3 linked regions of the Homo sapiens genome follow. The protein of the gene in region 1 purifies or fractionates together with the protein of each later gene. This does not show direct contact. Each region holds a gene or a part of one and is shown on either strand. Other genes may lie near its edges.

Region 1 (3,500 bases):
AAAGTGTGTGCCACATGGCAGGAAAGCTGTCAGGCCTTGTCTCCACCTGCTGCCAGCCCAGAGTCAAGGGCAATTTTCTTCTGCCTTAAGTGATAACAGACTGACAGTTTTCACATGTGGGTCTCAAGAGTGTCCTAACAGCCACAAAATCCATTTAACAAAAGATGTGAAGCCGAGGCCCCACCTGCATGGCCTTCAGCCCACTCCCCGCCTGCTAGTCTCTCCCTCACCCACCCCACACCCACAGCTGCAATCACTCCTAACCCCTGGCAGCTGCCTGGAAACCCAAGCATCTCCTACATCATGAGAACACACACATGCACATGTGCAGTGACACAGGGGCAGGCACACTCACAGGCCCCAGCCACCGTCAGGGAGCTGCACTGACCGCAGGTACCGCACAATCTCTTCTCTGTATCCGGCTGGCAGAGGGATGCGTGCCACGTGGCAAGTGATCAGGAGGCCTGTGTGGCAGGAGAGATGTTCCTCACTGGGGACAGGTGGTCATGACTGCTAAGACCAGGCCCCTTTCCTCCTGAGCACCTCACTCCAACAGGGAGCTACCTCCTTCTCATAAAAACACCCCCTGGAAAGGCCATTCCTCCCAGGCCCCCATGGGGAACTTTGGGAACAGGGCCAGAAGGAACGTCAGCCACAGCACAGGCGATGCTCCCTGCCTAGGGCCTGTAGAGCCCACTCAGCCACGCCTGGCTCCCATGACCACCAGGGTCTGAGAAACACCAGACACTGCACAGCACCTCAGGAAGGTCTCCCCCAAGTGCCCTGAAGGTCCAAAAGGAACCAGCATTTTAGATCAGTGGGCCTTCCATGAGGGGAGACTGTTGGTCTTGCTTTAACATCTGCTGGGAAGAAAAATACAAAATTGGTCACCCTTGCATGTGGTAATACCTACTTATTTATTTATATTTTTCTGTTTCAAAATTTTTTTACAAGCATATGCCGCTTTGCAAATGTCAGGGGGGAGGCAGAGACAATAAATATTATCCACTAAGAACCTTCCGTCCCCAGCCTGGTCCTCTCAGGCATGGTGCTCACAGGCCACCCTCCACCTTCACTCCCCATGCTTGGTTCCATCAGCCATGTGCCCCCAGAGCCTGGCACGGGACAGGTCTCAGGGCAGACCCCAGCCACATGTGCCATGGAATGAATACCTGACTCTGGCTTAGAGCATCAGAAGCCCTAGTGTTCAAACCATCCAGACATGCCCTGTGTGGGCGGCAAGCCACCCAGGCGCCAAGGCAAGAGACCGAGGACACGAGCTGTTCCAGTATAATAAAATATAAAACAAGAATAGTTATACCAGATATAGATCTTAGAGATATATGAATATCATTAATCATTAGTTTGTAGTAATTACTCTTTATCCCAATATTATAATAATCCTCGCTCTACAATCATAACCTAGGAAAAACCAGGCCATACAGAGATAGGAGCTGAGGGGACATAGTGAGGTGTGACCAGAAGACAGGAGTGCGAGCCTTCTGTTATGCCCGGACGGGGCCAGCAAAAGGGCTCCTTGGTCTAGTGGTAACGCCAGCGTCTGGGAAGACGCCCGTTGCCGAGCGGACGGTGGTCTAGCGGTAGCGAAAAGTGTCAAGGAACAACACCCGCTACTTAGCAGACCGGGAAAGGGAGGCTCCCTTTCCCCGGGGGAATTTAGAGAAGACTCTGCTCCTCCACCTCTTGTGGAGGGCCTCACATTAGTCAGACCTGCCCGCAGTTATCCGGAGGCCTGTCTCCCTGTGATGCTGTGCTTCAGTGGTCACGCTCCTAGTCCGCCTTCATGTTCCATCCTGTACACCTGGCTCTGCCTTCTAGATAGCAGTAGTCAATTAGTGAAAGTACTAAAAGTCTCTGATATGCAGAAATAATGGCATAAGTTGTCTTTCTCTGTGTCTCCTCTCTCTGCCTCGGCTGCCAGGCAGGGAAGGGCCCCCTGTCCAGTGGACACGTGACCCACGTGACCTTACCTATCACTGGAGATGACTCACACTCTTTACCCTGCCCCTTTTGCTTTGTATCCAATAAATAACAGCACAGCCAGACATTCGGGGCCACTACTGGTCTCCGTGCATTGGTGGCAGTGGTCCCCCGGGCCCAGCTGTCTTTTATCTCTTTGTCTTGCGTCTTTATTTCTACACTCTCTCATCGCCGCACACAGGGAGAGACCCACCGACCCTGTGGGGCTGGTCCCTACACCCTGGAAGAAGGGCAGATGAACTCAGAGACAGCGCACAGGGTCACATAAAATGAGCCATCCCAAAACAAGCCCGTCTCTTTCCTAACAGTTATAATGTTGTTAGGACGGGGAAATGTGCAGAGAGGAGCAGAGCCAGCATCTTCCTGATTTTACAGGCAAGGAAACTGAGGCTCAGCCAGTAAATGGTGGGGCTAGGAGGTCAGACCCGATTCAGTGTTCACCAGAGTGCTGCCCAATGCCGCACAGGCCACAGTCAATGGGAGCTGTCTACATAGCATCATGGACCAAGAGCATTTTCCAAAGTCCAAAAAGAGGGAAGAAAAGCTCCAACTCAGCCAGGTGCAGTGGCTCACGCCTGTAATCCCAGCACTTTGGGAGGCTGGGGGTGGGGGGTGGGGGATCACGAGGTCAGGAGTTCGAGACCAGCCTGACCAACAAGGTGAAAACCTGTCTCTACCAAAAATACAAAAATTAGCCAGGCATGGTGGCACATGGCTGTAATCCCAGCTACTCGAGAGGCTGTGGGTGGCAAGCCACCTTGGTGCCAAGGCAAGAGACCGAGGGCACGAGCTGTTCCAGTATAATAAAATATATAAAACAACAAGAGTTATACTAGATCTAGATCATACATATGATTATATATGAATATCATTAATCATTAGTTTGTAGCAATTACTCTTTATTCCAATATTATAATAATCCTCGCTCTACAATCATAACCTAGGAAAAACCAGGCCATACAGAGATAGGAGCTGAAGAGACATAGTGAGAAGTGACCAGAAGACAAGAGTGAGAGCCTTCTGTTAAGCCCGGACAAGGCCACTAGAGGGCTCCTTGGTCTAGCGGTAACGCCAGCATCTGGGAAGAGGCCCGTTGCCAAGCGGACCCAACCGTGGTCTAGCGGTAGCGTCAGTGTCAAGGAAAAACACCCGCTACTTAGCATACCGGGAAAGGGAATCTCCCTTTCCCCGGGGGAGTTTAGAGAAGACTCTACTCCTCCACCTCTTGTGGACGGCCTGACATCAGTCAGGCCCACCCGCAGTTATCCGGAGGCCTAACCATCTCCCTGTGATGCTGTGCTTCAGTGGTCACGCTCCTAGTCCACTTTCATGTTCCACCCTGTACACCTGGCTCTGCCTTTTAGATAACAGTAGCAAAATTAGTGAAAGTACTAAAAGTCTCTGATATGCAGAAATAATGGCATAAGCTGTCTCTCTCTCTCTCTCTCCCACTCTCTGCCTCGGCTGCCAGGCAGGGAAGAGCCCACTGTCCAGTGGAC
Region 2 (3,500 bases), on another chromosome or scaffold:
AAAGTCATTAACACCCATAGGAAATCATAATCTTGAAATACAAAAAAAGCAGAATTGTAAGAGAAGCACTCCCTGACAATATGAGAAAGCAATGGCTGCAAATAATTAGATTACCAGTTGAAACACATTTGAAATTACTGTCCATTCTCACATAATTTTTTTTTTTTTTTTTTTTTGAGACAGAGTCCCACTCTGTTGCCCAGGCTGGAGTGCAGTGGCGCAATCTCAGCTCACTGCAACCTCCGACTTCTGGGTTCAAGCGATTCTCTTGCCTCAGCCTCCTGAGCTGCTTGACTTACAGGCACCTGCCACCAAGCCTGGCTAATTTTTTTGTATTTTTAGTAGAGACTGGGTTTTACCATGTTGGCCAGGCTGGTCTCAAATTCCTGACCTCAGGTGATCCACCCGCCACAGCCTCCCAAAGTGGTGGGATTACAGACGTGAGCCACTGTGCCTGGCCCATTCTTACATAATTTTAAACATTCATCCACAGCCCAGATACATATCTTTTGAGGCCATAATTTAAAAAGCACTAATGGCAGTCATGTTTACCTCTGATTGTTTCTGATTAAGTAGTCCATGTAATTACATTTTATTATAAGTACTTTTTCTCTTATGAGTGAACACTAATTTTTAAAATTTGTTTCTAGATTTTAAACATTAGTCTAATAAACATAAAATTAGTTTCCTGAAGCATTAAAGCATTAACAGAATTTTAAAGATGAGGTAGAACCCTAAAAGGGGTTTTAAGAACATATGGCACAAACAAATCGTTATTTTCTCTAGGATACCAAGTTTCCTCCTTCCATTAGAGAGGAATACTTTCCTTAAGCAGCATGACAGGATGTCATACCTGTGTGAAGGATAGAGAACTGCAGTCTCCAGGTCTGTCACTGTTTCCTCCTTCGGGCACTAGGAATTTCAAACAAGAACTGCTTTTAAAGTTATAAATCACTACCCAAATTCAAATACTAATGAATCCAATTCAAAGTGAGTTAAAATAAGCAATTCCTTATCCAATTACATTATGCAGAATAGAATTTGACATTTGCTTAGAAAAAATCATACTTAAAGCTTATAGAACATTTTCCCCCTTATTTTCATAGCCCTTATAGTGAAAGGTTCAGTCCTGGTAATAAACGGATATAAGAAGCCTACTATTGCAGGAAGGAATAAACAAAAAAACCTCAAGGAAATAAGAAGCCCATGTCACCAATTGAGGCTTTAAACCAAGGTTTTCAAGAATTGGGGGAAAGGAATATAAACAAGTTGTAATGAGTTAGCAAATTTCTAGAGTAAAGAGATATATGCAGTCAAGAGCCTGCACTGCATGTAACAGATTGTGGCTTTGGCAGCAATTCTGGACCTCAGTTTCCTCATCTATAAAATGAAGCTAATACAGTTGCCCTCCCCAGATCATTGTGAAGGATTGCTGAGATGATAAAATATGTGAAGACACTTTGTAACACAAAGCACCAATACACTGACTATTACCTTAGTTCTTATAGTTCTTATAAGTGTTTTTCAAAGAAAATAAAGGTATTTTTTCTAGCAAGACCTAATCATTTTCAACACTGCCACCTTCACCCTCCCAACCTTTTATAAAGTGATTTTCCCTCTTACTGCTTATGTTAAAAAATTAAGCATTTAGACAAAGGAGCATTAAACATTATTATGTAAATTAAGTAGAAATAATTTGCGAAGGTGACTGGAACATATTCTTCAGTCCATCTGTTTTGAAAGACTGATTGTTACTTGAGATGGCAACTTCTATGTTTAACACAGCATACACCATTTCCTCTGCTCTCTATTTAATTACTGGCAAATTTAGCATCTGCCCTTAATGGATTCACTGGTAACTACATTCGGATGTTATTAATATTTAATAAAGCTTTACTTTTTTTACATAATTACATAATTTAAGAGCTCTTCAGTCGTAGCGCCTTTTACTTCATTAACTAAGTTTACTACCCACCTACGCCCCCCTGCCCCATAAAAAGAAATAGATCTTGAGTTTTGTAGGCAAAGAATACTACAATATTCCAAAAATGTCTCTAATTAACTGTAATTATACATACTTTGAGAAAATAACCTATCTTTGTTCTTTATTATCTCAAATTATGCCTTTGTCTTCTGCAAATTAAGCAGACCACAGAGACCAGTTCTTGAAAAACAAGATTCCTTCTCCATGTTAAGACTACTTAAATAATAATATTTCTTCTTGATGTTCATGTATGTATATGCATTTGACACTACTTGTATCAAGGAAATTTTCCTTGAACTGCCTATATTCTGCCTTTCCTTGCACTGCCTATATTCCCTCAAATTTTTTTTTTTTTTTGAGACAGGGTCTCCCTCTGTCACCCAGACTGGAATGCAGTAGCATTCCAGTCACTGCTCACTGTAACCTCGACCTCCCAGGCTCAAGTGATCCTCCTGTCTCAGACCCCGCAAGTAGCTGGGACTACAGGCACATGCCACAATACACAGCTGATTTTTGTATTTTTTGTAGAGATGGGGTTTTGCCATCTTTCCCAGGCTGTTCTCCAACTCCTGGGCTAAACCAATCCACCCACTTTGGCCTCCCAAAGTGCTGGGATTATAGGCGTGGGCCACCTTGCCTGGGCCCCTCTTTCTATTTTGATTACTTAAATTGGAGAGGGATGTTAGGTGGGAGAGACACAGAGAACAAAGAAGAAACAAATAGAAGATTCAGAAAGGATTGCTGTGCTACTTAAGGATTTCTCTATTCTGGCTAAACCAGTATTGCCAAAGTCTCAAGCAGATCACAAGCTTATTTCTAACAGGTCTTTTCAGAGTAAGTGACAGAGGGAATCAACATGGGTCAAGAAGCAGTTAATGAATGGCAAGTAGCCAGGCAGGTTACCACAAAGCAGGTTTGCAGACTCATGGGATGAAATATAGGCACTTTGAGTCTGGCAAAGACTAAAACACAAGAATGATAAGACTGCCTAGGGCCAACCAGATTTATGCAATGGTAGTTTCTTCTGGAGTTTACTCAGTGTTCTGAATACTTCCTTCTGGCTCCCTCCTTAGCCTTGATTCAAAGAAGTGGTTGGAGAAGTTCATTGCCTACACATTTTGGTATGTAAACTATAAAATATAAACAGTTACCTATTGATCTTTCTCATTGTTACAGGAGATAAATCTAGGAAATTAAGAACAAGTTGGCAACCTTTCCTCCTTAGGAGCAAGCAAGTAAAAACTAATGTTAAGAAAGACTTGCTCAAACCTGTACACTCTGGTATAGTTCTCCAAGTAAAAAGCATGGACATCCCTGCCTCCTCCCAGAGTTACTGGTCTGCGTATCAGAGATTCTACTCATCTTCAAGGCCCTGTTCTAAGTCACCTCTTCCTGGAAGCTTTCCTCGATAAATCACACAGAAAATAAGTTTTCTAATCAGGGACCTGCACTTCTACAGAGGTAGGTCATTCATACCCAAGTCTACATAGCCTACTCTCTATGGAAAACTAGTTAT
Region 3 (3,223 bases), on another chromosome or scaffold:
AAAACAAGCAAATGTCAAATAAACACAGCATATTGCTACACCCTGTTAAGTCTACCCTGCTGTATCTTAAGGCGAAGCAAGTATGCCATATACCAACCCCAAGGACACCAGAAGCCCCTGGGTGGGAAACGGCTACAGCAGGCCGGGTGCCTGTGGCTGAGTTAACAACCATACCTGGTTCTTGCGCCTGAGCACAACTACTGTATTTTGGTTTCTAAATACAAAATTCTCAATAAAAAAGCAATAAAGGAAACAACAGGTTTCAGATGATATACTTTTATAATGTAGATTCTTTTTTTTACCTTTTTCAGAATGTCATCGACAAGTTTCAAAAATATCTCGTCCACATTGAAGTTATCCTTGGCACTTGCTTCACAGAACCGCATCCCAGTGATCTGCTGTGCAAACTGAGAAGAAACACACACCTATTTCCTCTGTGTGGGGCCTCACAGACCAGCGTGCGAGCATGAGGTCTCTGGGCTCAGCTTCAAGGGAAGGGCTGGGATTAAGGGGTAGAAAGTCCCACTGACGCTCAAAGATAAAGTTCACAAGTGTAGCAAATTCTTACATTATAAGCAACTAGCAAAACAAAAGACAATAAAAATCCTGAAGGTGATGCCGGGACCTTCCAGTCAAATCAGTTGCCTAAGTTTCTAAAAGTGTAACATATCTGACATTTAAATGTGAATAGCATCGTTTCTCCATGATTCAATCCTTAGCAAAAACCAAGGAAGTTTAAAGTACGTTAAAGTAAATTATAAAAGCAACTTTATGGCTTAAAATATGTTTCTCTGTATAAAATGTCAGGTTAGATAATAATGTTGTATACACTGATGTGTTTTTTTCTCCCTCCATTTCAGAATGAATTTAAAGGAGCACGAAGTCAAAAAAGTGCAAACAAATTAGGAGGATGTGACTGAGTTATCACTGTATTGATAATTTCTTTGTAATTTTTAAAATAAGTAATTTATTAAAAGAAACAGTACCTCAAGCGCTAAGCACAGTGTGTGGCAACCGTGCCTCCCACGCCCTCTCACCTTTTCCCCCTGCTGCCTGGTGATTTCTCTGTCCGTTTCACAGTCCAACTTATTTCCAACTAAGAGAAGCTCTGCATCTTCTGAAGCATACTGTGGAATTTTAAAAGAAGCCACATTTCAAAGATGGGCATCGCCATATACTGACAGCAGAAATATAAACCGATACAGTATTTTTCGCTAATTTACATTTGTCCATTCACTTCCACTGTCTTTGAGGTTCTACCAGTTCCCAGGCAGGACTGGGCAGCAGTGCAAGGCAGGGCTCACTGTGTCTTAGAAAGAACTAGGGCACAGGCATTAAGAACCACAATGCTCTTGGCTGTTGACCCAACAATTCCCAAGACCTCTTCCTAAGGAAATGATTCAACATACAGGCAAAGCTCTACACTCAAAATGGTTATCAACTGAAAAACCTACAAGTCAAACAAAATGGCTCAAGAATCAAGTTATTTTAAAAACACAGGCATTTAAAAAAACACACGCTTCAGAAGAACAGAGAATGACACAGGAAGGACTCCATGACAGAATATTCACAAAATAAGCAAGACGTAAAGCTAAATACAGTGAAGCCAATTTGGTTTTTCAGGATGCCAGAGGTACAGATTTCTTCTTTACTTTTGTGCTTTTCTTCATTTTCCAAATTTCTATAATGAAGGTATCATTAATTTTATAACCAGGAAAAAAGTTAAGCTACATTTCTAAGTTTAAAAATACATATAGGTACAATGAGATTTCTGTCTTTAAAAATGAGGTTAAAATCTCTTGAGCAACTAACTTGTCGTTCTAAAAAGTTACTTGAAACAGACTGCAACAAAAGGAACCTGAATGGTGTGGCCGTGGGCCAGTTACGCAGCCAGGTGAGGAGTGCCGGCCCCTTATCAGGGAGGTGTGGGTAACAGTGACAGCACCCACCGCAGGGCTGGGGCAATGGGCCCCGCACTCAGGAAATGATGCTCTCACTCAAGTAAGGTGAAAAGCAGCAGTTGATGACAAAAGGAAGACAGCATCAGACCTCAAGACCTGGGTGGGCACAGACTCACAAACTCAAGTACCAAATGGGGTAGGATTTAGGCCATTTCTTTTGGTTTTGTATTCATCCTATTAGTTCTAAAAGTTTTAGACTATGAGGACTGTCCACTTCTAATTTCCACAGGATTGCACTCTGTGACTTCCGTATCAGGGAACATCAGTATCCACTGATGTGCCAATGGAGGGCCTGGTATGACTGATGCCCAGTGCAGAGCAGGCTGGGGCAGGGGCCCCGCCTCAGGTCTGATCCAACCTTGCAACCCTGATCCTAACAACTTTTTTTTTTAATGAAAAAAAAAAAAAAAAAAAAGAGAGAGAGAGAGATGGAGTCCCACTATGTTGCCCAGGCTGGTCTCGACCTCCTGGGTTCAAGTGATCCTCTTGCTTTGGCCTTCCAAAGTGCTGGGATTACAGGTGTGAGTCACCATGCCTGGCCACCAATCCTAACACATTTTAAAGAGGCATACATCATCAATGACATGCTTGGTAAAGCTGGCAAACATTCTCCAATGTTATCTAGCAGACAGGTTTAAATGCAATGTGTAGATAAAATCCAATTTATATTGCATATGCTTGTTATGCAAAGGAACTAAACATGAAACTACTGCACGAGGGGAAGAAAACTCAAAATGTGGTCAATGGTATATCATCACATCCCACTCCCAACTGCTCTGCCTTCTAAATGTGTATTTGGGAACATGTTTCTTAGCGGAGAACCCACGGTTCACATTAACCACAGGGACACAGCCTATCTGTATGATTCCATCACGAGCCAAAGGAGAACTCGAGCTCCTCTTGCTCAAAATGAGGAGCTAAAGGGCATCTATAATTGCGAGGACAGATGTCCAGTGGGTGACGGAGGCGCGTGGGACATCCGCAGGCACCGTGGAGAAGGCCATCTCCTCAAGGTTGTCACTCAGTGGACGTGCATGAGATGAGTGTCCAGGTGACCTTTCCGCAGAAATGAAATGTCTTATATCTATTCCATGAAAGCAGCTGGATGTAGTGGAATGAGCATGTTTGGCCTCTGTAGTTGAGACAGTCCAGGATACCAGACGAAAAATCCTGATTCTGGATAAATTTAATTCTTCTTTGCCTCATCCACAATACAGGACTACATCCCTATCCCGAAGGCTATATATGGGCTAAATGATGTT

The links. Proteins that work in one complex are often made in the same cells at the same time.
Region 2: the proteins of LSS (region 1) and HMGCS1 purify together in Homo sapiens (affinity purification with mass spectrometry; one large-scale study listed by BioGRID and IntAct). This does not show direct contact.
Region 3: the proteins of LSS (region 1) and RAB12 purify together in Homo sapiens (affinity purification with mass spectrometry; one large-scale study listed by BioGRID and IntAct). This does not show direct contact.

Annotation. Positions count from the first base shown.
Region 1 is NC_000021.9:46,222,275-46,225,774, forward strand, and holds part of LSS (lanosterol synthase), read right to left. Parts: intron 465-3,500; coding exon 356-464; intron 1-355. UniProt on the Homo sapiens protein: Key enzyme in the cholesterol biosynthesis pathway. Catalyzes the cyclization of (S)-2,3 oxidosqualene to lanosterol, a reaction that forms the sterol nucleus.
Region 2 is NC_000005.10:43,306,913-43,310,412, forward strand, and holds part of HMGCS1 (hydroxymethylglutaryl-CoA synthase, cytoplasmic), read right to left. Parts: intron 933-3,500; exon of another isoform or gene 913-932; 5' UTR 854-912; intron 1-853. UniProt on the Homo sapiens protein: Catalyzes the condensation of acetyl-CoA with acetoacetyl-CoA to form HMG-CoA, which is converted by HMG-CoA reductase (HMGCR) into mevalonate, a precursor for cholesterol synthesis.
Region 3 is NC_000018.10:8,633,437-8,636,659, reverse strand, and holds part of RAB12 (ras-related protein Rab-12), read right to left. Parts: intron 1,128-3,223; coding exon 1,038-1,127; intron 999-1,037; exon of another isoform or gene 861-998; intron 472-860; exon of another isoform or gene 408-471; coding exon 303-407; intron 1-302. UniProt on the Homo sapiens protein: The small GTPases Rab are key regulators of intracellular membrane trafficking, from the formation of transport vesicles to their fusion with membranes.